Linked DNA regions of Homo sapiens: region 1 is reported to be linked to region 2. The links are microRNA targets in miRTarBase. Many come from high-throughput screens and were not tested one by one. Region 2 holds a microRNA gene; the other region holds the end of a gene's coding sequence.

Evidence for each region. Region 2 holds the annotated microRNA hsa-miR-6721-5p (UGGGCAGGGGCUUAUUGUAGGAG, at 1,400-1,422, opposite strand). A microRNA usually pairs through its seed, bases 2 to 8, with sites in the 3' UTR of a target mRNA and lowers its output. Matches are read on the target gene's strand: a 7mer-m8 pairs with bases 2 to 8, a 7mer-A1 pairs with bases 2 to 7 and ends in A, and an 8mer does both.
Region 1: the mRNA of DLGAP4 is a reported target of hsa-miR-6721-5p. Seed matches in the 3' UTR shown: 7mer-m8 at 3,157-3,163, 7mer-A1 at 2,764-2,770, 7mer-m8 at 2,702-2,708 and 7mer-m8 at 2,376-2,382.

Annotation. Positions count from the first base shown.
Region 1 is chr20:36,526,577-36,530,961 of GRCh38, reverse strand. It overlaps DLGAP4 (DLG associated protein 4), which reads right to left. Exons shown (of 13, transcript NM_001365621.2): 13 at 2,329-4,149. The coding sequence ends at 3,931. All of the region lies in intron 2 of DLGAP4-AS1 (DLGAP4 antisense RNA 1), which reads left to right. Among named protein-coding and RNA genes, the nearest start is that of MYL9, 13 kb to the left of the region's middle.
Region 2 is chr6:32,168,685-32,173,069 of GRCh38, forward strand. MIR6721 (microRNA 6721) reads right to left here and starts at 1,432; the gene lies at 1,346-1,432. It overlaps AGPAT1 (1-acylglycerol-3-phosphate O-acyltransferase 1), which reads right to left. Exons shown (of 7, transcript NM_006411.4): 2 at 2,613-2,821; 3 at 2,253-2,386; 4 at 1,741-1,916; 5 at 1,481-1,576; 6 at 1,282-1,354; 7 at 1-764. The coding sequence starts at 2,812. The coding sequence ends at 592. RefSeq lists an enhancer at 615-1,814.

The DNA of each region.
Region 1 (4,385 bases), not on the chromosome of region 2:
GGTGGCCTGGCATGGTGGCTCACACCTGTGATCCCAGCACTTTGGGAGGCCAAGGCGGGAGAATCACTTGAGCCCACGAGTTTGAGACCAGCCTGGGCAACAAAGTGAGACTCCATCTCTACAAAAAATTTTAAAATTAGCTGGGCATGGTGGCATGTACCTGTGGTCCCAGCTACTTGGGAGGCTGAGGCAGGAGGATTGATTGAGCCCAGTTGGTTGAGGCTGCAGTGAGCCGTGATCACACCATTCTTTGCACTTCAGCCTGGGCAGCAGAGTGACACCCTGTCTAAAAAAGAAAAGAAAAAACAAAACAAAACAAAACCAGACAGACATGGTAACTGAAAGCAGTGACTGATCCTTAATGGGACCCTGGATGGATAAAAGGGAGAAGGTATAAGGGACAAGGTTGTGAGGGCACCTGGCGTATGGGCTGTGCTTTAGGCCATATTCATATAAAAGGAGGTGCTCCCTGGAACATTCCTTTCTTAAGTTTGAGGGTGGTGATGGTATTGTGGTTGTGCAGGAACGTCCTCGTGCCTGGGAATTGCATGATGTGTTTTGGGGTGAAGTATCAGTGTATGCCACTGACTCTCAGATGGCTCGCGGGGAAAACGATGTGTATGTATCCGAGAGGGATAATGCTCATATGGGTGAAATATCAGTAATCGGTGACTCTGGCCGCGAGATATGTGTTCATTATTATACTGTCCCTTCAATGGAGGTGGCGTCTTCTCCACTGCTGTGCCAGGAGGGCTGGGCGTGGGGGTCCAGATTCTGTACATCAGACACCCCTACCCCATCTTGTGCTTAATAGAGTGCAGGATCCCTCCTGAGACCCTAATCTAACCCTCAAGTCCCTTCCCCTGCCACAGCAGAAGCAGGAAGGCTAAGGGTCCATCCCCAATCCCCATGGCCCATCCGGGAGAGCCGGCTGCTAGCTGCACCCCTGAACGTCTGCTTCAATGCCTGATGCAACTGGAAACCTCTTCACTTACCCTTCAAGTCACCCCCAGCTGGGTCTCAGGGTAGGGGTAGGTCTGGGAAGGTGCCAGCCCTGGAGTTAATCCAAGCCACCTGTGGTCACCAGATGCTCTGTCACCACTAACAGGTGTGTTGGGATCCGGGGTCAAGGGCTGCTCCAAGCACAGGGGTCTGGCCACAGTTCGGATGGGCTCCCAGGGGGCTCGCTGGGGTGGGCGAGGTAGCCTGAACAAAGCTGCTGGGAAGGCAGGGTCCGTGCATCCCCTGGGCCTGAGATCACGAGCTTCTTGGCTGGCTTGGGCCAAGGGAGGAGACCAGGAGTCTGTGGCTCCAGAGCCTGGCCAGAGAACTTTCTAAAAGGCATGTTCCGGCCGGGTGCGGTGGCTCACGCCTGTAATCCCAGCACTTTGGGAGGCCAATGGGGGCTGATCCTGAGGTCAGGAGTTCAAGACCAGCCTGGCCAACGTGGTGAAACCCCCATCTCTACTAAAAATACAAAAATTAGCCGGGCATAATGGCAGCCTCGGGAGGCTGAGGCAGGAGAATTGCTAGAACCCAGGAGGCGTAGGTTGCAGTGAGCCAAGATCGCGCCACTGCACTCCAGTCTGGGTGACAGAGCAAGACTGTCTCAAAAAAAAAAAAAAAAAAAAAAAAGGAAAAGGTATGTTCCTACCACTGGGGCTTGGCACCTCCTGCTTCTGCCAGGACTGCGTGCCGCTCCCTCCCTGAAAGCTGGCTACCCACTCATCCTTCTGGTCTCTACCAGAACACTCCTGCCCAGGCTGGGTTTGGTGGTCGCGCTGCGGGGTCCTGCAGCCTCATTCTGCTGCGTCTTGTTTTTTACCACCTGTCATTGACTTGACCTTATCTGTCACGTTCAATATCTGTCTCCCTCACCAGAGCGAGCTCTGCCCCAGCACTGGGCCTGTAGAGGAGGTGCTCTGGAGATGCACTCAGGGCTCGCACCTGACAGAGTGGAAGCAGCTGCCAGGCAGGGGGATACCGAGTACCCCACCCTGGAGAATGTGCAGACTGTGGATCTGTGGGGGGTGTAAACTGTCCTCTAGGGTCGTCTTTATCAGCCTATCCTGGCTCCTGTGATAGCATCTATCTTTCAAGGGTTTATTTCAAACAGGAAGCTGGTAAGTGCTGCACACTGATTTTCGGGAGAGGGGACGGTCAGCTCCATCTTCCCGCCCCAGATCACAGAGCTGGCATGTGACAGCTGGCATCCCGGCTGGCACTCCCATCAGGCTGTCTCCACAGAGCTGCCTTTTGGGAGGGGTCTGGTTCAGTTTCCTGGGCCCACTCTGCTCATCCCCCTGCAATAATGCCACAAGCCCTTGGTACACGTTACCTCATTTATTCTCACAACATGCCTGTGAGGTAGGGAGGGGCAGGGACTGTCCCCGTTTTACAGAGGAGGAAGTTGAGGCACACAGAGGTCAAGTGACTTGCCCAAGGTCACAGACGGCGGCCAAGCTGGAAATGGGCCCCGGAGCAGACCCTTGGTTCACCTGGGGACGGGGGGGGGTCCCCCCCTGCAGCAAGCGCCAGCCAAGAGGATGTCTCGGATGCCAGAGAGGCGCATACACAGCATAGAGCAGCCCCTCAGGTACTGAGCTGGCTTCGGGGCTCAGCCCCTGCCCTCCCCTACCCCGCCCTGCAGGCCCGGGCCATTGCAGCTCAGGGCTCGTGACACCCTGGGAGTGGGATGCGGGGGCAGGAGAGAGAGAAGGATAATTGGGGTTAAAAAAAAAATAGAACAGAAAACTCAGAGGCTGGGCAGATGGGCCCTTAGGAGTGCGGGGCGGGGGGAGGGGGGTGGAGACCAAAAAAAAAAAGGGCTGCTTACACACAAGGTATATATTTTTACACACACTTGTACACACACCTAGATATAGTACATGTAAAAATATATGCTATTCACACACCCGCCTCCTGCCAGGTGCCCCGAGAGCCAGCGGCGGCGGCGCTGGGTGGGCATGGGTGAGCAGATGGGCGTTTGTTAACTATACACTCTAAGGTCTATGTGCATATGTACACATACATACAGACACCGCCGCCCGCCCCTCGGGCACCGGACACAGGCGCGGCTGAGGACTGACGGCCCCCTGGAAGCCACTCGGGAGTCCTAGATTTTGCTGAAGGAAGAAGGGGCTGGAGAAAATAAAAGGGCAGGAGTCTGGAGTGTGATAACTGTGGCTTCGTCTCATTTCCACCCGCCAAGACTAAAACTTCCCTCATCTGCTCAGCGGTGAGTGAGTCCTGCCTGACACTGCCCAGGGCTGGCGGGGCACCTCCCAGTGAGGCGCCTCCATCTGCGTGTGTGTGTGTGCGCGTGAGGTTGTGTGTGAGCACTTGGCGGGGGGAGGGAGGGGACGCATGTCCATCTCTCTGTCCTCTGGGCCCTCAACCGCAGAGAGGGCTGAGACCCAGAAAGCCGCTTGCCACAATGGTGACCACTGTGTGAGCTCTGAAGGGAAAAGAGAAAAACATAAGAATGAAAATCAAGGTCAGAGCGGGGATAGCTGGGGAAAGGAGGGACATGGCAGGTGCCCAAGGCTGCCCTTGGACTGTCGTCATCTTGTAAACAAGCTAGTGTGAGTTCTCATCAGATAGAACGAGTAAAAAGACCGCAGTATGGAGGCTGGGCCGGGAGTTGCCGACGTCCATCTATCTAGTCCACCACGGCCAGCAAGAGGAAAAAAAAAGTTTTCTAGTTTCGTGATTTTTGTTGATTTTTTTTGTGAGTAAAATCTTCATAACCTAAAGCTGGGAGGGACCCAAAAAAGCCAAATTGTGAGCCCTTGTATGCGTCAATTTGAAAGTTGGCTCAGGGTCTCTAGACAGAATAACCATAGCAAAGGTTGAGAAAACTCTGTTCCGTTCGCACTTAGTTTTTGTGTTTTTAATGATTTAAAATCGTTTCTTTCCTCCTGCATGGTCTCAGAGCCTGGTCTGGGCCTCCGGGACATAAATCTCGATGCTGTCTGCGCTCTCGGTGGCTGAGTTCTGCCGCACAGAAGCTGCCCGCTTGGCCGCCAGGAGTCTCTTGCGGGCCTCCTGGCGCTGCTTGTCGCTGGCGTCTGAGGCCTTGTCGCGGCTCACTGCCGGCTTGGATTTGGCTGGCTTCTTTGGGACCGGAGGGGGTGGTTTCTTCTCTTCCTTTAGTGAGACAGTGAGGAGAGAACAAAAATAAAATAAAGGTGCCACGTTTTGTGTGGCACTACCCCCACCATATGCCGGCAGCTGGAGTCTCCACCCCAGCCTCCCCGCATCGGGCACAAGCAACACACACTTGGAATCAGGAAGCCACGAGAAGCGATGACTGACAGTGGGAAGAGCTCAAGGCACTGGAGCAGAAAGCAAGCCTAGACTCCGAGAGCGCTCGAGCAGCGGGG
Region 2 (4,385 bases):
GAGACCTCTGAATTAGAAGGGTCCAGCCCCCACTGACAGGAGGCTACACTGGGAGGGAAGGTGAAGGTGCTGAGGAAAGCTCCCATGATGAGCCTGGGAGTGCTTCAGGTATCAGCTTCCAGCCAGAGGGCGAGAAGTCCTCCTCACAAATGGATGAGTCCATTGAATCCATGGACTTTGGAGTGGGGGGGATTTGTTCCAAAGAATGGATGAGTCCACTGGCCAATGTGGGGTAGAGGGGTAGAGAAGACCACATAGGAAGAGACTCCACTGGGGATGGAATGTTCCCCTCCCTTGTGTAGGCTGAGTCACTGGAGATGAGGGGGAGGCAACTGTCCCACAGACAAGACAGTAGGAGGTGGGGGTCAAGAGTGGAGACTGCACCGAGGCAAGAGTCCATGGATGGGGCCAAGAGGGGGCAGGAGTGGCGCTGTATCCACATTCACTTCAGAAGTTGAAGATTCCAAAGAGGAGAATAAGTGGGGAGAGGGGAGACAAGGAAGAGGGTTTGGCCCTGCTTCAGGGCCCACTGGGTGGGTAGGTGTGGGGAGGAAGATGGGGACAGATGGGAGGAGAGCTCAGAGCCAGGGTTCACCCACCGCCCCCAGGCTTCTTCAGATAGTCACCACCACCCCGGCCATCAGTGGAGATTTCCCGGAAAACAGTGAGCATGGAGTGCCGGACTCTGTCAGCCAGAGCTGGGACGTCATCTGGTGTCAGCCCTTCCGTGGGCACTGGGGGCAGCACCCGCACCTGACATTGTCCTGGGGCAAGGGGAGCACCATCATGGCCTGTCCACCCAGGTCTTTGCCCACAGGTGGGGCCCAGCTTCCGAGTGATACTCTTCCTCAACCTTTCAGTTCTCTTCCCCCAACCCTGGACAACCATCCCTGGGCTTGCCAGCTGCCACTTCTGAGGCCCTTCTCCTATACAAAGCCTTCTCCAATCCCCAGTTCAGACATCTCCTCAGCACCCCTCCAGCCCCCCTCCTCTGGGTTTGGCATTTACTGCTGAATGAGTGTTATTCATTACAGCTTTGTGCACACAGGCCTTATCTTTCCTGTTAAGATTAGTAACAGCCTCTCTTGGTGGGACCAAGTGCTACCCATCTGGCAGGGTATGGTGGGTGCTTAGTAAAGACTTATTGGCTGATGTGGGGTTAGACTAGATGACTGTGTAGACATCTCATGGCTCTGACACTGAATGATCCCCCTGCCTCACAGGGATGTCCTCCCAGCCTCTCCGGACACACCCTACCCCAGAACTGCTCAAAGCCCTCACCCGAGGTGAAGCGACGCTCCTTCTTGCAGTAGAAGTCTTGGTAGGAGGACATGACTATGGGGACAATGGGAACCTGGGGAAGGGTTAAAGCAGGTCAGTCCACAGCTCTCTTCAGAGACTCCTACAATAAGCCCCTGCCCAGAGATGAGGGAATGGTGGGGGTTGGCAGCTGAGTAGCAGAACGAAGAGCAGTAGTCACCTGGGCCTGCACTGCAAGATGGAAGGCGCCACGTTTGAAGGGCAGCATGGAGCCATTGTGGTTTCTCGTTCCCTCAGGAAACACCCAGACCCTCACCTGGGGGAGAAAGAGGGTCAAAGAAGACAAATACATATGGAGGAGTCAGAATAGGTGTGATGTTATAATGGGACCTTTGAGGCCCACTGGCCCTGCATATCAGTTTATTTACAACTGTTCTACTCTGTATCCCTCCAATCCCCCATTTCCCCAGGATGACTCACGTCCTGGGTGAGCAGGGTCTGGGCGACCTCAGACATGACACTGATGGCATCCCCCGTGCGCTTCCGGTCGATGAAGATGACTCCTGCCAGCCAGCAGGCCAGCCCGGCAGAGCCAGCCCACAGTAGCTCGCGCTTGGCAATGGGCACACAGCGGCCTGGCAGTACCTCCATCATCCCTTGGGCAGGGTGGGAGTGGGTGAGGATCGGGGTGGAGGCAGAGTGTCACAGAAGGCAACCCACCTCACCCAGCTCATCACCCTCTGGTAGGGACTGGAGGTGAAGGAGGAGACTAGGCAGGGAGGGGGGCCCCAAGTGAAGGAAAGGGTGACCAAAAGTATATGTAACCTGCTTATGAGGGCAGTTCTACCCAGGGAATGAAGGCCTGAGTGGGAGGCAAGGGGGCAATGTCCCAGAGGAAGGGGAATTGAGGATCTCTAGGAGAAGATATTCTAGGGAAGGTTTCAGGAGGGGAGGCATGGCTGGGGGAGGTGTGCCCTGTGGTGGGGTCTCACCAAGCAGATCGAGAGAGCTCTGGTGGTTGGAGACAACAACATAGGGCTGCGAGGGAGGGAAGTGGTGAGCCCCTCGCACCTCCACTCGGATCCCGTACAGGTATTTGATGTGGAGCAGCATTAGACGCAAGATCCTGTGGGGTCATGGCAAGGGGTCCCAGTGGGATCCATTGATGTCCATCTGCATGCCTCAGCTCCCCCCACCTTACTGTCTTTCTGACCACCTTTGCAGTCCTCTCCCCATTCCCTGTCTCTGGTCTCTCTCAGTCTTTTCTACACACACCATGCCCCCTTCCCCCAATCCACTACTCACTTTGTACCCTTAGGTTCCCTCATTGCCCAAGACCCCTTGCCCCTCACTTCATGTTCTCGACGTTGCGTCCTCGCACGGCACACACAGGGATGGCGAGCACAGCCAGGAAGAGGATCCAGCCATTGTAGAAGGCCATCTTGAAGAAGTACTTGGCACTGGGGCTGCAGAACCACAGGGTGGGCAGCAGGAAGAGCAGCAGCAGGAAGAGCAGCAGCAGCAGCATCCATGCCCCTGGCCACAAATCCATTCTGGCCACCTGCAGGGGATGGGGCAAGGGACAATCAGCCTGGTTTCTGGAGGAGAGTGGGGTAGGCAAGGCACAGAAGGCAGGGCTGGGGGCTGGTGCTATGAGGACAAGGGCCTGAGACACAAACTGGGGCAGGGGTCTCATTGAAACCTTCCCAGGAAGGCTCTCTAGGATGAGGGTGGTGGAGAAAGAGCTCAGGACTGCTCTCCCACCACTCTTCCCAAAGGCTCCGGATATATTCAGACAAGAGACACAAGACACAGACATCTACAATTCACAGATACCTGATAATAAATGACAACAAGAATAATAGCTAACACTTGTAGCTGGTAAGGGTCTTATAATGGTCTATACTTGTGCTGTCCGAGAAAGTAGCCACCACCTACATGTGGCTACTTGAAATGCAGCTAGTCTGAACTGAGATGTGCTGGAAATGTAAAATACACATCAGATTTCAAAGACTGAATAAAAAACAAAATGTGAGATATCCATTACTAATCTTTTATGCTGACTACATTTTGAAATTATAATCTTGGGCCGGGCGCAGTGGCTCACGCCTGTAATCCCAGCACTTTGGGAAGCCGAGGTGGGCAGATCACGAGGTCAGGAGTTCAGGACCAGCCTGACCAACATGGTGAAACCCCGTCTCTACTAAAAATACAAAAATTAGCCGGGCCTGTTGGCGCATGCCTTTAATCCCAGCTACTCGGGAGGCTGAGGCAGGAGAATCGCTTGAATCCGGGAGGCGGAGGTTGCAGTGAGCCAAGATCACGCCACTGCACTCTAGCCTGGGCAATGGAGTGAGACTCCATTTCCAAAAAAAAAAAAAGAAATTATAATCTTTTGGATGTTATCAGATTCAAGAAAATATATTACTAAAATTAATTTCACTCTTTTTGCCTTGTAAAAATGTGGCTACCATAAAAAAATTACATTGTGGCTTGCATTATATTTCTGTAGAACAGTACTGGTCTATACATTAAGTTAAACTCTTAAAATGATGCATATGATAGTCTAGAAAGTACTATTACTATTTACATTTTATAGGAAATAGGCCCAGGGAGGCTAAATAACTTACCTGAGGTCATACAGCTCCTAAACAGCAGTTTCTAGGTTAAATCTAAGCCGCCTGTGTTCCTAACCACTCCATTACGCTGACACTGGTATGTATTGCATATATATATACGAACACAGCACACAGCATATATGGTGATTGTGACAGAACACTCACAGCCATATACCCAAGGGCCAAATGGCAAGATTAAAAGTTCGTGTCACTAATGCCAACAGACACACAGTCATACAAAGACTAACATGTTCACACATAGACACAAATTTATAATTACACCCAGTGACAGATAAAAGAATGTAAATGCATAACTAGAAAAATCCCTCTCCACCCAGGCAGCTCCCCTATTCCTAGGTAAACTTATGGACATACCTGGAATAGCTACAAAGACCAATCCTACCTCCAGACAGGCAAACGAATCCTACTACCCTTTCCCTTCCTTCTAGTGACACTTTGCGTGGGCAGGTACAGTGTGTGAGGCCTCACCAAGTGAAAAAAGGAGGG